Regions from separate parts of the Homo sapiens genome. Here all the other regions are linked to region 3. Evidence: fine-mapped expression QTL. A gene starts in region 3. Each other region holds a variant in brackets. All regions are shown on one strand. Distances are from middle to middle. Region 1 overlaps SMCO4 (single-pass membrane protein with coiled-coil domains 4). Region 2 overlaps LOC105369435 (a long non-coding RNA gene). Region 3 holds the start of TAF1D (TATA-box binding protein associated factor, RNA polymerase I subunit D).

The links. PIP is the estimated chance that this variant, and not a neighbour inherited with it, causes the effect.
Region 1: its variant is fine-mapped to the expression of TAF1D in unexposed skin (GTEx, PIP 0.97).
Region 2: its variant is fine-mapped to the expression of TAF1D in whole blood (TOPMed, PIP above 0.99).

What each region holds. Positions count from the first base shown.
Region 1 is chr11:93,520,436-93,528,618 of GRCh38, forward strand. The region is part of intron 1 of SMCO4 (single-pass membrane protein with coiled-coil domains 4); the gene reads right to left. Among named protein-coding and RNA genes, the nearest start is that of SMCO4, 19 kb to the right of the region's middle. RefSeq lists enhancers at 3,665-3,764, 6,213-6,312, 6,343-6,512, 6,893-6,942. The variant T/G (reference allele first, on the strand shown) is at 5,054.
Region 2 is chr11:94,223,953-94,232,135 of GRCh38, forward strand. All of the region lies in intron 3 of LOC105369435 (a long non-coding RNA gene), which reads left to right. Among named protein-coding and RNA genes, the nearest start is that of IZUMO1R, 77 kb to the right of the region's middle. The variant G/A (reference allele first, on the strand shown) is at 4,986.
Region 3 is chr11:93,737,910-93,746,092 of GRCh38, forward strand. It overlaps TAF1D (TATA-box binding protein associated factor, RNA polymerase I subunit D), which reads right to left and starts at 3,586. Exons shown (of 6, transcript NM_024116.4): 1 at 3,413-3,586; 2 at 1,328-1,422; 3 at 200-590. The coding sequence starts at 1,395. C11orf54 (chromosome 11 open reading frame 54) reads left to right here and starts at 3,763. Exons shown (of 9, transcript NM_001286069.2): 1 at 3,763-3,819. RefSeq lists enhancers at 9-1,208, 3,246-3,755, 3,884-4,569, 4,336-4,455, 4,976-5,515.

The DNA.
Region 1 (8,183 bases), 220 kb before region 3:
ACAGGGTGCAGAGAGGTTAAGGCACCAAAGTCAAACACCTTGTTGGAAGCACAGGCAGGACAGGAACCTAAATCCAGCTAAAAGTTTCTGCTCTTGACCATTATACTTAACTATCCCTAAACTATATTGCTTCCAAACAAGGCAGAAAAGGCTATTTTCAACTAAAGTATAAACCAGCAAGTTTTGACCATTAGATAATTTTTCACATATACTACCTTTTCCTATCAAGATACAAAGACAATCAACACTTCGGGATATAAAGAACAAAATTATTTTGACTTTAAGGAGAAAGAAGGCTCAAAACTCTCCAGCCTGGAAAAGAGAACTGAACAGAGACCCAGACTTGCAAATTAGGGGCTAAAGCCAAAACCAAGTCTCTTTGGGATTTCTGTCCAGTGCCTTTCACCTTCAGCATGTCACGTATTTTCAAGGACTTCGTTCTAAGTGCACAGTGGTGCTGCTAGGCTCAGTGAGTGATTTCAGAAATCAGTATTTACCAAATCTTGGAGTTTCCACTAAAATTATCACTGTGTCGACACAAAACCACCAGTTTAAGCCTATACATTGCTATATTCAGTTTTAGGAAACTGTTGTTTTTGATGAAAATACAAAGCACCTGGCTTTCCTAAGAAATGTCATTTATATTCTCAGATTCCACATGCAGCCATATCTCTGGAAGATGCTGTTTTCTCTAACTGGCAAAACCAGGACATCTCTTTGTATGCACACACCTGCTCTGTTGCAACATTCACTTCCTTTCACTGCCACAGCCAAACCACAGATTAGAGCTACAAGTTTAGATCAAGATCAATAACCATCACAGATCTGCAACTCTAGAAGGGGCTCCTGCAGTGGGCCTGGCTCCAGCTGGTGCCCTGGGACCCAACATGAGTCACTTAATCTCTCTTAATCATAAAACGAAGGGCAGCAGATAATGCTTACTAACTGCTTATCAGATGCCAGGCACTGTGCTAAAGCCACTAAACTCGAGCTAACTCATCTAACTGTCATAATACCTGAGGTAGGTACCCTCATCATACCCTGCCTAAAGATGGACAAAGTCAGGCTTAAAAAAGTTACCCAAAGTCACACAACCATGACACTGCACAAACAGAATTCAAACACAGGTTTCTCAGACTTTAGACCCCAAGCTCTTAACTATCACACTCGGTGTCTTTCTGCTTTCCTCATTCATAAAGCAAGGGTAAGAATACCTGTCATTTCCTTGCAGAGACAGTATTCTGCAAATTGTCCTTAACATCATTCTGACTATTCTTCCAGTCTGAGGGGTGAACTGTTACAAATTCTCCCAGACAGACCAACCAATCAGCTAAGTACTCAGTACTGGACTAAGGATGAAGGGAACATAAAAGAGAGAACATCCCTGCCGCCAAGGACTTCGCAATCTAGCCAATACCAATCGAAGCTATAATCTCTCTCAGATATTTTGATCATTGATCCACAGTCAGAAGTGTATTTCTATTATGGCCTGGGAGGGATGCACCTACACACAGCCTTACTGTGTGTCACACATTGTTATTTTTCACTGTTCTATTTCATTTAAAAATGTATCAACCCACTAAATCAATTCTCTGACTGTGGATTGTGATTAACAGTTTGAAAAGCCCCAACTCTAGCCCCTTTTTGGCACAAACTTTAAAACAAAACAAAAACAAAATGTCAGGAAGTTCTTCCTCAGACTAGTTTAAGTTTCTTGGGCTATCGGGTTAATTGGATTTGTATCGCTGAATATGTCCTCAGGGGCAGATGCACCAGCATATCCGATCTGTGAAGGGTATAAAAAGTGGACTCCTGCAGGCCCACATTCAAATGCTGACTCTCTGGCATGTTAGCTATGTGACTTCTCCAGATCTTGGTCTATAAAACAGAAGATAATTCCACTCACCCCTCTGGCTTTTTACAAGGGACCTACCTGGTACTGGTTCTGTCTTTCTCAGCAGAGGGGCTGTGGGCATGGGAGGAAGGGAGACAAGTCTGGTCATGTGGCACGACCAGTTTACGCAACACAAGACCTGTGGTAGCCAATTCCACCCCTCGGCCTGCTACCATGTTAAGTGATTCGAAATCCTTCAAATCTTTTATGCAGGCATCCGTTGTATTCCACATGGAAGTACAATAAATAAGATGCCTAAGATATAACAGGGCATAGGCCAAGTCTCCGCCATTGTAGAGCTTGCTGTTAATCTAGGCAGGTGGCCAGGTAAACAGGTAACTGTAACTGACCGCACCAGGTGGTATAACATAAGTCTGGGAGTCTGATGAGAGAGTGTCTGATGAGAGAGTGTCTCATGCAGGGAAGTCTAGTCCTTGATCCCATTTGCAATTCCCTTAGTGTCAAAAACCACACCTTGCAAACTTCTAATTTATAACACATAAAGACTTAAAAACCACTACCACCACACTGAGGACAAGAATCCTTGTCTGTAGCCACAGCAATAAGAGGGCTATCAACTCCAGTTCTATCTCCCCTACGAGATGCTAAGTTCCTTGAGACCTGAAGTAAGAGAATTGCTCAAGATCACACAGCAAATACACAAAATTGGAAACCCCAAAGATCAAAAATTGCAGGTCACTTTGCTGGTTCCTCTGGAATTTCCCCTATACTTGTCTAGGCTCAAACATAAAAACTAATGTGGAAAGGAGAGAGAGGAGAAGGGAAAAAAGGTCTGTCACTAGGTGACCAAAAATGTAAGAGCTGGCCAAGCACGGTGGCTCATGCCTGTAATCCCAGCACTTTGGGAGGGCCGAGGTAGGAGGATTGCCTGTCCCAGCTACTCAGGAGAATTTCCTGAGCTCAGGAGATGAGCTGTGATCACGCCACTGCACTCCAGCCTGGGTTACAGAGTGAGACCCTGTCTCAAAAAAAACAAAAAGACTTACCCACTAGACGCTGATTAGGTCTTTGAAGAGGTGAGACCACGCCGGGCATAGTGGCTCACGCCTGTAATCCCAGCACTCTGGGAGGCCAAGGCAGGTGGATTGCTTGAGCTCAGGAGTTCAAGACCAGCCTGGGTAACATGGCAAAACCCTATCTCTACCAAGAATATAAAAAATTAGCTGGACATGGTGGCACATGCCTGTAGTCCCAGCTATTCCGGAGGCAGAGACAGGAGAATCGCCTGAGCCTGGGAGGCAGAGGTTGCAGTGAGCTGAGATCATGCCACCGCACTCTAGCCTGGGCAACAGAGCAAGACCCCGCAAGAAATGAGACCAGAAAACCTCAAATTTAGTTTTTTAAGTCTTTTCAAGATAATTATACAATCAGTGAAAGTGTGTGTGCTAAAAGTGCTGACACGTCCAATATGTAAATTTAAAATACCCCGCTTTCTAAAATCGTGTTTTGGCATTTCCTCATTTTTAAAAATACTGGGCATTTCTGAGAGGCTGTGTGGTTAACATGGACTTCCTTAGTTTTGGTTTCCAGTAAATGAAGCATATATCAGCACCCCATTCCAAAACCAAAAGAATGAGAAAACCTTGGAAAGATTCTAGCTGAAACAGGGTTTTTAAGCTTCATCCTCTCCTTCTTGTTTTGGGGGAGGAAGTGTGCAGGGAAGATCAGTTACTAATGCCCTTCAGGGGAGGGGAGTTTCTCAGGCCTCAACCTCTGTAGCTGAGATCTGTATTTTCTTCAAGCCATCCTGGTTGAAAAATAAAAACAAGCGATTACAACACATTGAGCCTGGGTGATCTCACATACACTATCTCATATATATCTTACCACAGCCTCTTTTAGATTGTACTATCATCACCAATTTATAGGACACAGACTCAGAAAGGTTCAGTAACCAGCTCAGGCTCACAAAGCCAGGAAACGGCCGGGAGGGAACCTAGGATGGGACCACACATTCCTGAGGGAGAAGAGAACCCTACTGTGTACACGATCCCCAGGGCATTTGAAGAGGGCATTCTTTCACTTTCGGAATACAAGCTGATTTTAAACAGGCATCTTCTCGGTTGTGTTTTATGAAACTTACAGGGGAAGCTATGGTATAGAAGTATGCTACCTAAGAGTGACTTCCCTTAAGAATCCCCATCTGTAAAATGGAGATGATGACGACCACTCCCTGGGAGCACTGGACAAGACTTTCTGGGCAAAGTCCTGAAAACTCTGACACTCCACAAACACAAATGACCTGGAGCAGCAGCATTACTGCCAGGCCCCTGGAAGTAGCTTATGGGGACAAACTGAAGAGAAAGGCAAAACACACACTCCCCGCTACAAAAGTGCTTAGTCCTCCAAAATGCAGGGAAGGCACGGAGTACTGATGATGAGGAATGGTGGGTCAACAGCCAGTGCACACAGAGGAGGTGGTGCATCCAATGCGTTCCCCACCTATGTTAACTCACAGATCTCGCCTGCTCACTGCACTCATCCAAGGTCTTGGGCAAGGACCCACAGAAAAATAGTGAAACAGGAAAAAAATCCAACAAAGGGTATAAACTCAGAATTCTGTGATCCAGTCACACCAGAGTGACATCATAAAACATAACTCCAGTTCCACAAAGACAGATGCTTCCCTGGGCTGGGCGGCCCACATCCCCAACACCCACAGCTGGCCTCTACTCAGAGGAAGGTTGCACTCAACCCACAATGGGCCAAGGAGCCACTACTGTACTGCCACTCCCAGCTGTGGTCAGAATACCCTCTCCCAGGGCTCCTGCTGCCACTTCCAGCTGTGGCCAGAACACCTCCCAGGGCTCCTGAGACCACTGTGCTATGCAGCAAAAGGCCACACTCTGATCAGAAGATCTTACGTTTGAATCTCAAGCACTGCTACTTACACACTGGGTCTGTCAGCAAATTACTGCCCCACTGATTCTCAGGTCTTTTCCTCTGTAAAATGGAGAAAATAATAACCACTTTCTGAGCTTGTTGTGAGGATTAAATGAGATAATCTGCATAAAAGGCAAGGCACACAGCAACTGAAGCTATTATCCAACTTGAAGCAGAGGCCAGCTAATATTGGGTAAAAATTAAATTTGATTCCTTGAAAGAAAAAAGTTCCATAGAGTTAGTGAGGATCAGCAA[T/G]TTTCAGAAAATTTAAGGAAGTGAGGTGGAAAAATTCCACTCCCCCCATTCCTAAAGGGTTTTGAAGCCCACCCACTCCTGGCTCTCCTGCAGGAATAGAGAACTGCAGTGTCTCCAGACTCTTCCCACTTTATAAATACACCCTACGACCAACCAGAGAGTGCTTGCTGCCAAACTCCTGGGCAAACGCGACCAACAGGATTGGATCCGGAAATTAGATGTCCAAGCAGCCCAGTCATACTCAATTCAAAATAGATATCTGTGACCTACTTAGTCTTCGAGTACCATTCTCAAAGCCAAAAAACAAGACAGGGCCACTGACTTCAGCAGAGCCCTGCATGGGCCCCTGCTTTCCTGTCAGATGAAACGTGCACTGCAACAGTGATGACTCAAGAAATTATCTCAGGATAGCTGGACAGAAACCCCAGCTTGGAAAGAGCTGATTCAAACAGTTGTGAAAAAGCAAAAAGTCACAGAAGTCCTGCCAACAGTTTATCCTCTCTGACTATCCCCAATAATCCATCTTCATCCACTTGGACTGAGGGTTACACCTCTCATGACAGGGACTTCTCAAGCTGTCTATCCCTAACACTCATATTGGTTTGAGTATACATATCTTCCCATAAAACAAGGGATTCTGCCTACTGTACCTTGATGTTCTACAAAGCATCAAGCACAGAAAGGGTCCAATGAAGAGCAAGCACCACCCAAGGGGGACCCCCTCCCCTCCCCAGGGGCAGACCACCAGGTTCCAGCCCACTCACACGCTTGGCTGCTCAAGATTAGAGAACAGAAACAGACAAATATTTGCTAAAAAAAAAAAAAAATTAGGAAGACAAACAAGACCAGGGAAAGTTGCTATGTACTTTCAACCACCGCAGTTACAGAATGATCTCCTAAATTACAACTCATTTCACCAAAGAGATGAGAGTTTTGGGGAGAGTGAATCCAAGGAATTTGGCAGGGACAAATTCCAGTGAAATCCTAGAGCATTCAGCACTAGGCAGTACAACACCAGGTAGACAGTGGAACATTATACTTCACCAGTGAAGCGATGGTAGAGGAAACAAGCTGCTGCCAAAAACAAAAATGAAATAAAGCAAACCTGCTGCTCTTCACATCCGCATCCATCCTCCTCACATCTCCAAGGTCAGCCCCACTGTTCTCACGCACCATTGTACACTCAAAATTCTCATCAGAGAAACTTCCTTGAGAGCCCTGTGGTTTCCTCAGCACTTTTTCCCTACATCATGACATTTAATCATCACCACCATCCTGGGAGGCAGGTGGAACAGGCATTTTTATCACTCACTGAGAAATGAGGAAATGGAAGCCTAAGTATGTCTACCACACGGCACAATCAGGACTAAAGTACAGACTAATTCCCAAGTTCAATGTGTGTTCTCCAAAATAACCCAGACCTGACAAGGCCACATATCTGAGCTCTAGGCCATTGCCCTTTCCACTGCACTGCTGAGGACCTTCTAGAGACAGAATTCCGACACACAACCCTCTCAGTACAGCAGCCCACTCTTCAACCTTCTCAAGACACAACAGAGCTCACAAACCAACCTTGGCAACCGCTGACAGGCAGCACCTGCGTCAGCCACACACCCTAAATCGGGCTGACCACCACCTCACTGGCAAACACAATCCAACCCCTAGAGTTTCAAAAAAGAGACATACACTAGCAAATGGCTTTCTACTGTCAAATGGTGGGCAGAGGCAGAAGAGTGATCATGGACTCCAACTGTTATATACCACAGATCCCAGGAACCTGGGACCTTTCTGAGTATGTCAGTTCTGGGTTCAAATCCTGCCTCTGAAGCTGACTAGCTCTGTGACTTTGGGCAGGTAGCTTTGTTTCTGTAAGTCTCAGCGTCCTCATTTATCACATAAGGGGTTCCAAAAAAAAATCTCTCAGGGGATGTGGTTAAGGCCACAAAACTATACACTTAAAAATAGTTGAAAAGGCAATTTTTTTCCTTGAGACATGGTCTCACTGTCACCCAGGCTGGAGTGCAGGGACATGATCACAGCTCACTGCAACTTCAGCTTCTTGGGCTCAAGCGACCTTCCCAACTCAGCCTCTTAAGTAGCTGGGACTACAGGCACACACCACCACGCATAACTAATTTTTTAAAAATTTTTTTGTAGAGATGGGGTCTCACTATATTGTCCAGGCTGGTCTCCAACTCCTAGGCTCAAGTGATCCTCCTGCCTCAGTCTCCCAAAGGGCTGGGATTATAGGCATGAGACACCACAACCAGCCTAAAAAAGCAATTTTTACGTATATTTCACCACAATAACAAAAATTAGGTTAATATTTGTTTGCTTTTAAGAAACAGGATGGGTTTTGCTATGTAGCCCTCAAACTCCTGGGTTCAGGTGATCTTCCCAACTCAGCCTCCTGAGTAGCTGGGCCTATAGGTACAAGTCACCACACCCAGTATATTTTGTTTTTTTAAAATAGGAATGTCATAGGTTCACAGTGAGAATTAAATAAGATACTGTAATGGCAAGTTCTTACATTGTCTGGCACATACTAAATCCTAATAAATAATAATTAATTATCATTAATAATTTTAATAGTTATAAAGACAGTACATGCTCATTGTAAAAAAAATGCTTAAAAAGCCCTCCTATAATATGAAAATCCAGAGATGACCACTAAAATAAAGTACTTTATGGTCTTTTTCCTACACATAGATATTTCTTAACAAATTTGGAATGTAATTGATATAAAATTTTGTAGTTATGATCCATTCTTTTCTGCCTTACTTATAAATACAAAAACTTCTCACAACATCATCCAGAAATAAAAAGCCTTTGTTCAAGGAAAGGATAAAAAGTTGTGTGAAACTTGAGAAAAGAACAAGGAGATCAGGTTGAGCAACTGGAGACACCCGCCTCCAGAGCCAGAATGGAGATTTAGCCAAATCCTCCACCACCTGCTCGTCTCTGCCTCCAAGTTGGCCCAGAAAGCAAGAACTCTGGGGGTCTGGCCAGACAGGCCATCAGGGAGCACCAGGGCTGAAGCATGTTGAGTTCTGGGGAAGCCCTGTATTTATCAGGCTGGCTGGGATAAAAAGTTCATGTTCCCTGTGCCTAAACCGGCTCTACCTTCCAG
Region 2 (8,183 bases), 490 kb after region 3:
GCTAGATAGATAGATAGATAGATAGATAGATAGATAGATAGATAGAGCTTGTTTGAATCAGGTTCAATTAAGAGCCATTCATTGTTTTTCATTTCTATGAATAATATGTCTTTTTTATCTAGTAATACACCCTTCATCTGTTTTCCTCTCCTTGCAATTATTTGTTGAAGAAAACAAGTTGTTATTCCTATAGGATTTCCCACAGCCTTGATGTTGCTGACTCATCTTCATGATGCCATTTTTCATTTGTCATGGTGAACATGTTTCACTGTTCTCTATGTTTTTTGCAAATAGGTAGGTAAATCTAGAGACTTAATCAGATTCACATTTGTGTGTGTGTGTGTGTGTGTGTGTGTGCAGACCATTTCATAAGTGGTGGTGAGTATTTCCTTCAGGAAGCACATAAGTTCCGACCGTTTCTCTTTCTGTGATGCCAGCAGCTGTTGCTGATCATGACTTAGATCTGTTAATTCCTTAGGGGTTACAAATGTTGATGCTCTTATTCTATCGTTCCTTCTTTGTTTTTATATAGAGAAGCTTCATTTCATTAACTATTTGTTACCCAGAAGAAAAAAGGAAATATGCTTATTTCCTTTTATTTGCCAGTTTTCAAATAATATGTAGGGTTTAGAGCACCCTCCAAAGATGATCAATGACCAATTCTGTATTATTATAAATCATGAATTTAAACATACTTAACATGTTTAAATTCATTTTAGTTTTTATCCTTATTGTTGTTCAAGCTGTTTCATCTTTGGCCAGTGGGAGGCTCCTCAACTTAGTTCCTGAGTTTTTTTGAAAAGGTCCTACTGGTTTTTGATAGATTCCTTGCTTTCTGGCATAACAAGATGTTTCAGACTCCCTGTATTAATTTTATAGGACTGCCATATCAAAGTACCACAAATGGAGTGGCTTAAATTTATTCTGTCACAGTTCTGGAGGCTAGAAGTCCAAAATCAAGGTACCAGGCAAGCCATGCTTCCTCTGAGGGCTCTAGGGAAGAATCCTGCTATGCCTCTTCCTAACTTCTGGTGGTCACTGGCAATCCCAGGCATTCCTTGGCTTGCAGCTGCATCATCCCAGTCTCCGCCTCTATCGTCATACAGCCTTCTTTCCTGTATTTCTGTCTGTTTCTGTTTTTCTTCTTGTAAGGACACCAGCCATTGATTTAGAGCCCACTCTAATCATGTATGACCTCTTCTTAGTTTAATTACATTTTGCAAAGACCCTATTTCTTAGTAAGGTCACATTCTGAGAATCCAAGTGGATGTGAATTTTGAAGGAAAGGCTACCAATTTTGGTGAGGAGAAGCACACATTGTAAAGTTCCCACCGTTGAGGTTTGTAGTGAGCAAATGACGACAGAAAAAGAATCAGCAAGAAGAATCAGACTATCTTCAAAAGGAAACCAAACCAGTAGTTCAAGAGGAGAAACCTTGGTCTGGCATTGAGGTCTAACAAGCGTTTCTCTGGATGGGTGACTACACACACAAAAAATCACACATTTAGGAGCAGTCCATGTTTTCAGCAGTAGGTACAGCACCTTTACAGCTCAGACCTCTCTCTTCCTTATTGTCATAAGGAGGTTTCTTTCTCCATAAGAGTGGAGGTTATTCCCCTCTTTGCGCAGATGAACAAGCACAGGAGAAAGAAAAGAATAAACTGGCTATAAGTGTGGTGTAGCTTGTAAGAAGGAGGGGAAAAAGGAGGAGAAAGATAAGGAAGACAAACATTGAGAAAAGAAGCTTTCTTGGATAGGGAAATTGAAGAATGAGCCTTGAAAGGCAGAGTTGAAGGAGCATAAAAGTTGGCATCAGAAAGGCCTCTGCTACTCACAAAACCTGTGACTTTGAATATGTTTCATAATTTCTTTGAGATTCAGTTTTTTAACTGAAAATCAGGAATAATGGTATCCATAATAATATGCTTGCATTTATTCATGTTTCTATTGAGCATCTTCTACTTGCCAGATACTATTGTAGGTGCCAGGGATATGGCAGTGGAAAAACTAGACAGAAATATGTGCCTCATGGCTTCCATTCTAATTCAGGTAGTTGTGAGGTAAAAGTAAAACTGCAGATGTGAACACTGGACAGATAGCAAGTATTCTTAAAGAGTTAGATTCTCTTCATCTGTCCTAATGCTGAGCCACAGATTCAGAGATTGGCAGAGCGCTTAACTTAACAGCAATTTATGTGAGTGAGGACTCTCCTCAAAGAAAGAAACCACCACTCAAAGATCCCATTATGTTCTCAAAGAGTAGGGCAAAAAAAGGCCTACTTGGGATAAATGTCAGTGTTTGTTCTCTGGGAGTAGTTGGGGAGATTTGTTTTAATCTTATGAATTTTTGTTTGTTCTTGTTTTACTGTTCTAGTATGATTGCTAAGAAGGAGGGCCTTAGGAGGTTCCCTAGTAAGATACTATTACATTTTTCTCTCTCAAAAATGTATTGGCTCCCTATAAGGTGACTGGATATCGATTATTATCTGGCCTCAAGTTCCCCCCTACAAAAGCTGCTAAATCTCCTAGGCCCCTGCCTATGAAGCAGGCGTTTGGAATTGGAGGACAGATTTTGTATTAAGCCCCTACCAGGCAGATACTTGAGTGATCACTGGGGCTGAGGTGGGCATCTTATCTGCACAGCCTTGATGACTGGAAGGATCTTCCAAGAATCCCTTAGGGAAGCATTTATGCTCACTTGGACTGGTGGCACCTTTGCACTGTTTTTCGTGTTGGTTTCCCAAATATTGAGCCCTTTGGAAGGATGCTGGGATAAAACTATAGATCTTAACTTTTTGCTTCTAGTTGGAAATTCACATTTCAGGTACTGCACAGGGCGAAGGAATGTTCTAATGGAATTTTTTATTTATTTATTTATTTTTATTTTTTGCTTCCCTGGAAGATTGGGTGATTACAGGAAGGTGTATTCACATGTGGAAAAGGTGATGAACTTGTAGCATCAGTACCCTACAAACTTGAAACCCATCATAAAAAGCTTTGATGATGTAGCAGAAGACACTTTGGTTGACACCAGGAATAGCCTTTGACTCTTAGATCAGATAAAATTCCTAACATAGCACAGTTACAGTGGACAACTGCTTTTTTGTCTCTCTTTGAGAATGTTATTATATTCTGTTTGATTGCAGCAAAAAACTTACATTTAAAATCAAGAAAGCAGAGTCAGAGACCCAGTTATAACCTCTGGAAACCCAAGAGTTTACTGAAGATACTATTTCTCTGGGAATTTTAAGCCATCTTATGGGAGAAAAAGTTTCTAGAATGGTAGCCCAGTCTACTGTTGGGAAAACCAATAACTGGAAAAACACAATTATTGGGATGCACACTGCTGATATATAGGCATATGCTATGCTTTCAATCTTTTTCCCCACAGTCTTATCTCTCTGCTTCTGCCTTGAGGAAAGATCAAAGGGGTTGGCAGGACAACTAAGGCCTTTCCCTTGAGAACATTTAAGCAGGCAACTCAAAGACTCTCTTTCCTACCAGAGCAAGAAAGAAAACCACAGGAAAGTGGAAAACAGGCTGTAGACAGACCTCTGAATGTGTTTCTAAATATTTCTAAAAATTTATTATTCTAATGAAAAGGCTCAGAGTAAGTTAGAAGAACATGTTCTGCTTGGCTTTGAAGAATAAGCAGTGATTACACTTAATTAATGAAAATTGTACCAGATGATATCATGTCATTTATATTTAATTCTTGCTCTAAATTTTGTATCACTTAAAAATATAGTGATTGGCCATGGTGGATACTTAACTCGTTTACTCAGCACATATTTATTATGTATCTACTATGCTAGCTACTGAGATAACAGTGGTAAACATGCATGGTTCCTGCTCTCATGAGGCTTATAGTCTAGGGATAAAGAAAGTCTTAATAAAATCATCTCACTAAAAATATGTAAATTTTCAGCTGAGACATGCTGTGAAGGTAGTAAGCATATGGTGTTTGAGAACCTATAACAGTCAGATTGTACCTATCTGGAAGTCCCTGAGGAAGTGATGTTTTTGTAGAGAGCTAATAAATGAGTGGACGATAACAGGGCTTAGAGGAGGGAGAATGGTTCCAGCAGAGGAAATAGTGTCTGCAAAGTCCTGGGCAGGAGGTAGGGGACCCACCTAGAGAAACTGAGACTACTGTGATGAAAACAGAGCAAAGAGGAGCTTGAATATTAGAGGATAGTAAGTTGGAGAGGAACAGAGAAGATGATGCAAAGCACTCAATCTCTCCATGCCCCAATATCTTCATCTATATAATGGGAATAATAGTAATATCTATATTTAGGGATACTATGAAAATGAAATATTAATATGCATAAAGCACATAGTACCTGTGTACTTTGTGCTAGCTGTTATCATCCTTTCCCATATCCCACTGACAGCATTCTAGCCATGTTATAATCGGAGATCTTGCTTTATTCTAAACAATATTATCAGTTGCTTGAGGTCAGGGATTTTGTCCTATTCATCTTTGGATTGCTTGGGTCTTAAACATAACAATGGCTAAATAAACATTTTCCAAATTATTTTTTTCTGGAACTTACCATATGCAAGACCTATCTAGGCACAGTGAAGTCTCAAGTTCTTTGAGACTTTTGTGGTTTGAGGATACTAATATTTAAAACAATTTCTTATCAAAATATACACACAGCAAAAGAAACATAAGTCAAAATTCCGACTTAATATATTTTCACAAACAAATGCATTCTTACAGCCAACTGTCAGATGAAGAAACATTATCTGCACTCAGGAAAACTCTTTTATCCTATTTTGGCATTATTCACCTCCAAGGGAAGTCACTATTCTGACTCCAACTTGACTGTTTTGTAGTTTATATAGATAGAATAAAACAATATAGACACTTTCCTGTCTAACTTCTTTCACTCAACATTATAGTTGTGAGGTCCATCCACATTGTTGTGTGTAGTCATAGTTCATTTTTATTGCTGTAGCCTATACTATAATTTATTC[G/A]TTCTACTCTTGATGGGCTTTTGGGCAGTGACTAGTCTGTGACTATTATAAATAGTATTGCTTTCAACATTCCAGAACATGTCATTTGGTGAGTAGATATACGCATTTTTATTGGCTACACACCTAGGAGTGAAATGCTGGGTCATAGGGTATACATATGTTCAGCTTTAGGAGATATGGCTGAGCTGTTTTCCAAAGAGATTGTACCAATTTATACAGCCCACCAGCAGTCGATGAAAGTTGCAGTTCCTTCACATACTCATCAACACTTGGCATTTTCTTTCTTTTTCTATATTAATTATGCTTAAAATGTATATTTGATCAGCTTCTCACCAGGTTGGAATGTAGAAACTGTGGTACATCTCCATGGCAGGGCAAGCCAGGGCTGTGTCATTAATTCAGATGATTCCCTGCCAGAAATCTTTTATTCAATAATCAGTGATTAAGAGCCTACTCTGTTCTAGCTGCTGGAGATTCCAGGAGAATAAAGTATGGTCCCAGGTCACGAGCCATCATGGCTCAAGTCAAGAGAAGAGCGATGGAGTTGGATCCTTATATATACAAACAAGGTGACACAACAATACAGAGAATGGGATTTTCTGACTACCTGGGGGCCACAGAGAAGGCTCACAAAGGAGGGGACATTTGCGATCTGTAGTTCCAAATGTAGTTCATCTGTAGTTCCCATAATCCTCACATGTCATGGGAGGGACCCAGTGGGAGGTAATTGAATCATGGGGGTGGTTACCTCCATGCTGTTACTCTGATAGTGAGTGAGTTCGCAAGAGATCTGATGGTTTTATCAGGGACTTTCCCCCCAATTCCCTCTGCACCTCTTGCTGCTGCCATGTGAAGAAGGATGTGTTTGCTTCCCCTTCCACCATGATTGTAAGTTTCCTGAGACCTCCCCAGTTATGCTGAACTGTCAGTCAAACCTCTTTCCTTTATAAATTACCTAGTCTTGGATATGTCTTTATTGGCAGTGTGAGAACAGACTAATATACTGGCTAATTTATAAACCACAGAAATTTATTTCTTACAGTTCTGGAGATTGGGAAGTCCAACATCAAGGCACTGGCAGATTTAGGGACTGGTGAGGAACTGTTAACTGGTTCATAGATGGTGCCTTATTTCTGTGTCTTCACATGGTGGAAGGGGTTAGCTAGTTTTCTGGGGTCTCTTTAATAAGGACACTAATCCCATTGATAAAAGCTCTACTCTCATGATCTAATTACCTCCCAAGGGCTTCACCTCCAATATCATGCCATTGGGATTTAGATTTCAATATTTGAATTTTGGGGGGACTCAAGTGTTCAGATTATTGCACTCATTTTTTGATACACTCCAGTATTTCAATGTCTCTGTTCGTGTAGCATCTTGAGTGGAACAAAATACTCAAGGGTTGTCTTTACCAGCTTGAAATAAATTGGGACATCAACATTAAAATTCTGAATACTTAATTTATACTAATGCATTTGTATTTCAGTTAGCTTTATGTTTTGGCTTGCTGCTTTGTCGTATCCAGCCCATTTCCCTTTCCTCCTGGGCACACAACTAGACCACATTTTCCATGTCTCTTGCAATCAGCTGTGGCCATATGACTGAGCTCTGGCCAATGAAACATGGCCAGAAGTAGTAGGTATCATTTCTGGACAGAAGCAGGTGGGTGTACCTTTTTCTTTGTCTCTCTCCTCATTTACCAGTTGAATGGGACCACCATAAGGAAGGCCGAGCCACAGTTGGAAAGAGACTGGGCACCTGAATGTTGATGTTGAAGGCTGCTGGGCCATGCCACCACACCGGACTGTGTCCTAGGGAGACGTACCCATATTGTGCTAAGTCACAGAGACTGCAAGGTTTAGCATACAGCAGCTAGAGTCACTTTAACTAAAACAGGGTAACAGTGGTCTCCCTTGTCTTGATCTTCTCTTCCACTACTTCCCCCAAAGTACTAACAAAAGATCCGCAATTACATCTGCAACTTCTCCCAGCACAGTGAGAATTATTCTATCAGGGGAGCCTCAAGGTCACTTAGATGAATTCTGAACTCTCTTATGGTCTTTTTTGCTCTTGGATCTCTATAGGGTCTAGCTAGTATGACCCTGCTTTTTCCAGTCTGACAACTATTGATTCTTAAGAGAAGAGACAAACTGAGGCAGGATTGGGGCAGTTCTGCATTCTCTCTCTATTGGCAACACTGCAACATCTGAGAGTTGTTATTTCCTTTGACGACAAAACAGAAAGCATGTGTCCTTCCTCCTGCTGAGTGGCAAAACAAGATGCCCATCCTACACACTGTCCAGAACAGCAGGTCCTCACAGTCTTCTCAGAAAATCCAGGCCGAATGAAGAGAAAAAGGAAGGCCAATGCCAGCCAGTTGCATCTTTCATAGAATGAGTTAAGCATTGGCCTAGCATAAGGTACACAGGCAGGCTGACATGGCTGATGGGCTCCTGATGCCACATCATTAGTACTCTGAATGACTCAGATACTGTTATTTTCTGGTAGGTCATGTTGACTTGAGATCTAGAAGAAACACTGGTCCAGAAGTCATAATGCCTGGGTTTCAATGGATCCAATAATAGCTACCACTTATGGGGTCCTTGCTGTGTTTTAGATCTTCCTGGGCACTTTTTATACATCATGTCAAGTATCTCTTTTGGAATAAGATATGAATTTCTGTGCCTATAAATTTTATATATATTTCTATTTTACAGGCAATTTTACAGATATCTCCATTTTACAGATAAAGACATTGAGGCTCTGACTGCTATATGCTCAATAGTATGCTAGTCCCTCCCGGAAATAGATTAAGACTCTGACTTGGATGAGTTTAAAATCTCCTTAAGGAAGTGAGACTTTCCTGAAGCAATCGGGGAATCACACCCAATAGCATACAAAGTTAGATGGAGATGGAGTGTCCCGGCTGCAGAGAGTGGGAGTGAGAGTCACACCCAGCCTGAGAGGCCTGGATTGCCAGGTACCAGGGGTCGGGATGGACAGACACCAGGAGCTAAGTGGGAGTACAGCCAGCCTTGAGGTGTATATGGGGAGGCATAGTTGAAACCAGTCTGGGAGACGGGAGACAGGATATTTGGAGTAAGCTCAGGATGGCCTGTTTTTATTCTGTTTGGCAGCTGGACCAGGACTGTCTTAGAGCAGTAATTCTTAACCTTGGCAAGACATAAAAGATGCTAA
Region 3 (8,183 bases):
AAAGTGTAGTTATATTAAGAGATACAAGTCAAGATTCAGTTGAAGGATAGGGTGGACTTTAGGGGTAAGTCAGTATAGAAGAGTATCAAAATTGCAGACAGTCTGTTCCCAGTATATCTGAGACAATTCTAAATTGGCCAACAAATCATTTTGGGCATCTTGAGTTATGTGTAGCCATGTATGTAAAATGCTGACTCACCTCAAACGTTAAAATTTTTCTCCAAGGTGCGTTTTTTTCATTCTCTGATTCTAAAAATGGGAAGCCAGATCCTCTGCTTCTAAATTGTTTCTTCTTATCTATTAGTGAGTATATAGGATTTCTCCTTCCTTCTGGTCTTCCCCGTGGTCTTCCTGTTGGCTGGTACCTCCTCTTTTTCTTTTTTTTATATCTCTTTTTCCTGTTCTTGAATCTTTCAAAAATAGCTTTTATAGTCAATGGTATTGGTTCAAAAGATGAGTCACTTGATGAATCACTTGCGTGAACACTTTCAGGTGTACGAACAAATTTTCGAATGGGGTTTCTTTTCTCCCCTTTAGGTGAGTAAGGGATACACTGAGTTTTAAATAAGCTGCTATCAGAAGAGTTATCACTAGAAAAATGGGAAAAAAATTAATTTCATCTTCTTTTCTTACTGCTTATTACCATTAATACCCAGTCCTAAATGTACATTTCTTCCAAGACCAACTCAGAAAACATGCCCAGAATTAAAAATTTTTTAAAGGATGGGCTCAGAACCAGCTAGCCTTTCTACTGATCATCCTATTTAAATAGCCCATAATGCTACAGCTCTTATTAAAGAGTTTTGTAGACATCGTCTTGCTGTCACCCAGACTGGAGTGCAGTGGTGCAATCACAGCTCACTGCAACCTCAAACTCCTGGAAACTCCAGGGATGCTCCTGCCTCAGCCTCCCAAGTAGCTAGCTAGGACTAATGGCATGCACCACTATGCTCAGCTTACAAAAAAACTGTATCTTTCAAGACAATGTATGAGCTCCAAAAGGCTGTATGGTTCGGTTCACTGCTAAGAGTGTCTGAGTAAAACAAACACAGCCTACCGAACCGGAGGATGTAGTCTGGAAGAGATGCTAATATGACCCAAAGAATACATTTTTTCTCGACGAATGTGTCCCATAATATATTCACATTTTGAATTTAAAGTATTTGCAATGCTATTATATCAATCTATGTAACTAGATAAACTTGGAAGGTCAGTGAAATCTAGTTTTCCTTCTTTCCCAATTCCTGAAAATTATCTTTACTGTCACTCATTATATACAATAGTTTCTCATAATTCAGATACAATAAACATGATTGAATCCACTCACCTTCGATTTGCAAGTTCCACAGCATCAGATGTCACATGGTCAAGAGAATCTATTCCTGATTTATCCATCAATTGCTCTTTGTTTTAAACAGTTTTCTGAAATTATGAAATTTAGTAAATATGACAAAGCTTCCCTAAATATTGACAGTATCTACTACAGTGTTGAACGTGGTCAGACTATGCCAATGATTTCAGGCGAAATCATTTACCAAGGTTAAGCTTCTTATCCATTTCAGATCAGTTTCTTTAAAAAGAAATCCAGAAATTCTATTCACAGGTTCTTTCAGTTGTTACCCTCTAAATGTATTCAACGCAACAAGATTCCAAAAAAGTACCGTCCCTTCCAACAAAAGCATCTTTCAATATAAGTAAAAAATGTAGTTTTATCATTAGCCACATATTTTAACGTACAATTACCAATACAGTATTAATGTACAATTAAAAGCCGTTTTCCAAGATCAAAGGGGGAATTCCTAAAGCAAAGTGTGCCCTATATAAACCAGGAAAAGGATCTCCAATCAATAAACCATTTTAAACTCCTAATCACCTCTCCATTATAATTCCTAGATTCTTCATTCCTAGATTCATTTAAGCAACTGAACTTTGTCATATTGTATCTTTGCCATTATTGGTGGAAACTGACAAGTTCTGAATTCTCAACCTTTTTCAATGAACTATCATAATTCTTGTGTCTTCATCCCCATGGTAGAGAGTATACAACATACCAAAAAAAAAAAAAAAAAAAAAGAAAAAGATTCCTTCTTGTGAGCTAAAAGAAAAAAGAAAAACAGGTTGGTCTGGGTGGCTCAGGCCTGTGTAACACAGCACTTTGGGAGGTCGAGGCGGGCGGATCGCTTGAGCCCAGGAGCTCAAGACCAACCTGGGCAACGTGGTGAAACTCCGTCTCTACAAAAAATACGGAAATTAGCCAGAATAGTGGCGCGCGCCTGTGGTCAGGAGGCTGGGGTAGGTGGAATACCTGAGCCTGGGAGGTGGAGCTTGTATGTAGTGAGCCTCAGCAACACAAGGAGACCCTTGTCTCTACAAAAAATTCTTAAAATACTGGCTAGGTGTGTTGGCCCGTGCCTTTGCTCCCAGCCACTCGGGAGGATCGCTTAAGCCGCGGTGGAGGTTGCTGTTAGCCGAGATTGCACCACTGCACTCCAGCCTGGACGACAGAGCAAGACCCTGTCTCAGGAAAAAAAAAAAAAAAAAAAAAAAAAAAAAAAAAGGCATGGCAACAAAAATTAAAGATAACTACTTATTTCATTATTGTACATGCCTTAGTCAATCTCTTGTCTCATTCTGTAGCTTCTTGGGACCTGACATGAGTCATTACATATAAATCCTAGGATGAACTAGCAAAATATTTAAAATATGAAACGATAAGGTCACCAAGAGCTCAGATTTGTTAAATGCCCCCTGTGGTATTTTCCTGGTACAAGGTCTTACTAGTTTTTTTAAGTACAAGATTCTACAAAGTCATTAAATATCGAATGCTCAAAAACGGAATTCAACAAAAATTTGCCCCCATGCTTTAACGGTATACCTGTAGTTAATTTTTTTTAAAAGTAGGGATTATCAAAATAAAGCTAGCTCAATAATCACTTTTTCGAAGTGTTTAGAAGACACTCCTACTTGGGTGTCGATGCCTCCGTGGGGATTCTGCAATTCTTAGAGGCCACGTGGGCAGAGAGCGGCGCTTTACCCGGAGCTAACGCTGTGACCACCAGCGCCTCTCACCCGGCAGCGCCTAACCTGCAGAAAACCGGCGCGAGTAATGGGTACCTCACATACGAAGGTTAAATCATTTAAATCACGTAATAAGGTTAAACTTGTCCGCAACACGATTTAACACCTCCATCTCAAGATATAATGAAGCCCGTCCACACTACAACCACGTTTGTGTGGGACTCATACCAGCCGCGTGGCGCGGAGTGGCCTGCGGCCGTGATCCCTTCACCCTCTCGGACCGACTTCGGAGTCTCGATCCTCCGGACCAACGAAGGGGCCCCGGGAAACCCCAGATATGCAACGCCTCCCCCGCCCGCCAGGCCCGGACGGCCTCGCCCTCTTAGCAACCTACCTAAAACGGCCTCGCAGTGGCCCCAACCGCGCACTTGCTGCTTGTAACCCAGGCCTCGGCCCAAAACCCGCGACTGGCCTGGTGTCCTAGAGCTCTGTACACACCACCCTCCCGACCTCAGCCCTCCAACTCCCGATAACCAGCCGACCTCCTCCAACCGTGCGGAAGAAAAGGGTTGGCTATTTCCGTGGCCCAAGTAATAGTCAGGCCGAAATCTCGCGATACAACTTAGCTTCCGGGAAGAAGGCGAGCGGTGGGAGGAGACGCGACGTGGGGGCGCCATTTTTCTCGCCGCGCAGGGAGGACTGACTAACGTGGGCGGAGCTCTAGCTCGCGTATTCTGAGGAGGCGGGGTTGGCCTAGGCGAAGATCCGGACTCTGGGTGTTTTGCTACCGTGACCGTTTAGGTGAGTGGAATAGCCAAGAACATTTCGGCAAATAACAAAAACAAAACGTGCGGTCACTTGTGAGTGGATGAGAACTGTGAGGAAACAGCCTCTCAGCCCGGTTCGTTTCCGGTGGTCTCGCGTTTGCTGAGCTGTCGCCTGGCTTTCTAAATCTGGTCCCGGGTGTGTGGCGAGGGTGACGGGTGGGATGTGTGCCTGAGTGTTTTGTAATCCTTTGTCTATTTCTGCCTTCAGAAACCCTTGTGTGTTAAAATATTGGAGAAGGCTCATTCTTTGACCATGACTCGAAGTGTGTAACCTTTGTGCTGGACGCCAGTGTTATTCCATAGCACGCCCAGGTCTCCTCCCCACTTTTGCACCTGTTTCGTAAGCTCACCCTTTCTGCCTCCCAGGAGTTGGCTAACATGTCACAAGTGAGACCTGTGGAGGATTTGTTTTTCCTAAGTTTCCTCCTACATCCCCCCTGCCCCACACCATTAGTTCCTTGACCGGTTCCTGAGTTAAGATTAAACAGTGTAAACTAGTTTAGTTTTGGTGGGGTTTTTTTCTCCCAAAGTAATTTTTTTTTTTTTGAGACCGAGTTTCGCTCTTGTTGCCCAGGCTGGAGTGCAACGGTGCGATCTTGGCTCACCGCAACATCTGCTTCCCGGGTTCAAGCGATTCTCCTGCCTCAGTCTCCCCAGTAGCTGAGATTACAGGCGTGCGCCACCATGCCCAGCTAATTTTTGCATTTTTAGTAGAGGCGGGGGTTTCTCCATGTTGGTCAGGCTGGTCTCAAACTCCCGACCTCAGGTGATCCTCCCGCCTCGGCCTCCCAAAGTAATTTTAAAAAGGAATGAACTGGTTTGATTTTTCCGCTTTCAAAATTCTGTTTTCATATGATAAACCACAAAAATCAGTAAAGCTGTCTAGTCTTATTTTATAGTTCACATTTTAGGATTGAACGGGCCTTAAAAGTAATCTGGTCTCTTTACCTGCTTTGCTCCATAGTTTGGACAATTCCGGGGATAAAAAGTCCGATCCTTTAGGCAGCCCACTGCATTTGATCCACAGGGTCTGGGCAATGACGAAGCTCCAGGACTGGTATGGCATGTCCCTCACTGCCGTATTCAGCAGCAAGCCTAGCTGTGTAATTTGTGAGGCTCAATGCAAAATGAAAATGCAGCGTCCCTTGTTCAAAAAGAAGGGGAAAAGTGCTATTAAAGGGAAGGAACATTTAACTCCTAATGCAGAATCATTGAAATTTCACATTTCATTTTGTATTTTTTCTTTTTTCTTTTTTTTTTTAGAAACAGAGTCTCGCTCTGTCGCCCAGGCTGGAGTGCAGTGTGGCCCGATCTCAGCTCACTGCAACCCCCACCTCCCGGGCTCAAGAGATCCACCCACCTCAGCTTCCCAAGTAGCTGGGACTACACGCGCCCGCCACCACAACCGGCTAATTTTTGTACTTTTAGTAGAGACCAGGTTTCACCATGTTGGCCAGGCAGGTCTCGAACTCTTGACCTCAAGTGATCCGTCTGCCTCGGCCTCCCAAAGTGCTGGGAGTACAGGCGTGAATCACCGCGCCCGGCCACATTTGGTATTTCTCTGTTTGTGTTATAGAGACAGGGTCTTGCTCTGCCACCCAGGCTGGAGTGCAGTTGAAGCAGGATATTCCTCTGACCCCTTCGTGGGTCTTGCGGCTGCGGTGCCTCACTTACTTAGCCCACGGCTCTCAACTCCTCGCGGGAGGGGGGGCGCGAGTGAATGAGGCGGGAACTGGAGTGCTGGAAGCCACGAACTCCAGTCACCCAGGCCTGCTGCGCTCCACCCTTTATGGGAGGGTGCGTGGGGGTGAGCAGATGCTGGAGCCGGAGCGAGCGCTTTTGGTCGCCGGTAGGAGCGAACTCCATGCAGGCCCTGCGGCTGTGTCTAGGGGATGCCCGCGACCCCTGAAGACCCACAGCCTGTCTTACAACCTGTCATGGTTGTGAAAAGTTTTGAGAGAACGTCTGCACAGTGTCTAACGGTGTCTGGTATATAGTGTGCACTCAAATGGTAACCAGTTTAGTTGCGATAGTTGGTCTACCCCTCCAGGTGTTAACCTCTGCAGCTCCGTTTCCCTTCTAGACCCTATTTCTGGGCCATCGACTCCCACCAATTAGGCAGGAAAATACTGTTTGCCTCCATCTGGCCCAAGGCTGTATTCCTGGAGTTTATGTGAGAACCTAACTCCTTTCTCAGCTCCAACTGTAACCCTCTCCCCACCTCCAACACACACATAAACACTCACATACACATGCTACCACACTGCCTGCTGTGCCATCAGCCTGCCTGAAGTTCACATCATTTTAGAATTGGACGGGCCTTCATAATTTAAATTTTATTATGAAAAAGTGATAGTCTAAGGAACTCATTTGATTTTTTTGTCTAAATGTCAAATATAGAGTAGAACGCACAAGTGTCTGTTATAGAAATACTTGAGAGTCCTATATGCACTGTTATCCACAACCATTTAAGCACTTATCCACTAATCCCTAATAAGTACCCCTAATAAGTACATTTCTAAACCAGTTATTCAAGCTACATCCTCCCAAGATTGGACTTTGTTTCTACTTTGGTAGGGACATAAATAAACGGAAACAACTGACCTAACTTTTTACTAAAGAGATAATAAAGGGAATAAAATTAAGATTACATTTGGATTTTAACTTGTGTTCTTATTCCTACTGCCAGCAAAAATATGTAAAGTGTTTTTATCATTATAAATGAATATACTATTCATTGTGCAGATTTTGACATGTTCATAAATAAGTTAGTACCCAATGTTTGCTTGATAAAGAATGTGATAAAATGTTAACATTTGGGAAATCTGGGTGAAGAATGTATAGGAATTATTTGTATGTAATATTTGTCAATCTGAAATTATTTAAAAGAAAAAGTTAAACTGTCTCATTCCTGAACAATTATAAATTATTCAACCCAAAACTGAAGGGGGCCTGCCCCTCCACACCTGTGGGTATTTCTCGTCAAGTGGGAAGAGAGACTGAGAAAATAAATAAGACACAAAGTATAGAGAAAGAACAGTGGGCCCAGAGGACGGGCACACTCAGTATGCGAGGACCTGCACCGGCACTGGTATCTGAGTTCCCTCAGTATTTATTGATTACTTTTCACTATCTCGGCAAGGGAACTGCGGTGGGAGAACAGGGTGATGGTGGGGAGAAGGTCAGCAGGAAAACATGTGAGTAAAGAAATCTGCGTCATAAATAAGTTCAAGGGAAGGTACTGTGCCCAGATGTGTAAGTAGGCTAGATTCATGTTTCTCTTTACCCAAACATCTCAGTGTAGCAAAGAGTAACAGAGCAGTATTGCTGCCAGCATATCTCCCCTCCAGCCACAGGGTGGTTTTCTCCTATCTCAGAATAGAACGAATAGTCGGCTTTACACGGAGACATTCTGTTCCCAGGGATATGCGGGAAACAGAGGCCTTCCTCTTTTACTAATCCTTCTCAGCACAGACCCTTTATGGGTGTCAGGCTGGGGGACGGTTAGGTCTTTCCCTTCCCACGAGGCCATATCTCAGGCTGTCTCAGTGGGGGGAATTCTTGGACAATACCCACGCTTTCTTGGGCAGAGGTCCCTGCAGCTTTCTGCAGTGCATCATGTCCCTGGTTAATAGAGAATGGAGAATGGCGATGACTTTTACCAAGCATACAGTCTGCAAACATATTGTTAACAAGGCACATCCTGCACAGCCCTAAATCCCTTAAACCTTGATTCAATACAGCACATGTTTCTGTAAGCACAGGGTTGGGGCTAAAGTTACAGATTAACAGCATCTCAAAGCAAAACAATTTTTCTTTGTGCAGATCAAAACGGAGTTTCTTTTGTCTTCCTTTTCCACATAGACACAGTAACAGTCTGAGCTCTCTTTTCCCCACACAAAACTATGTTTAAAATAATTTAAGTATGATTATATAAGATTTGGGGGCCGGGTGCAGTGGCTCACGCCTGTAATCCTAGCACTTTGGGAGGCCGAGGCAAGTGGATTGCTTGAGCTCAGGAGTTTGAGACCAACCTGGGCAACATGGTGAAACCCCGTCTCTACTAAAATACAAAAAATTAGCCGGGCATGATGGCACATGCCTGTAATCCCAGCTACTGGGGAGGATGAGACAGGAGAATTTCTTGAACCTGGGAGGCGGAGGTTGCAGTGAGCCGAGATCATGCCATTGCACTCCAGCCTGGGTGACACAGCGAGACTCCGTCTCAAAAATTTGGGACCGTTAATAAACAGTTATATATATTTGGGAGATTAGATTACATGTATTAAATCAAGAACAATAAAAGCTGGTATTTGATAAAGTACTAAAGTAAATATA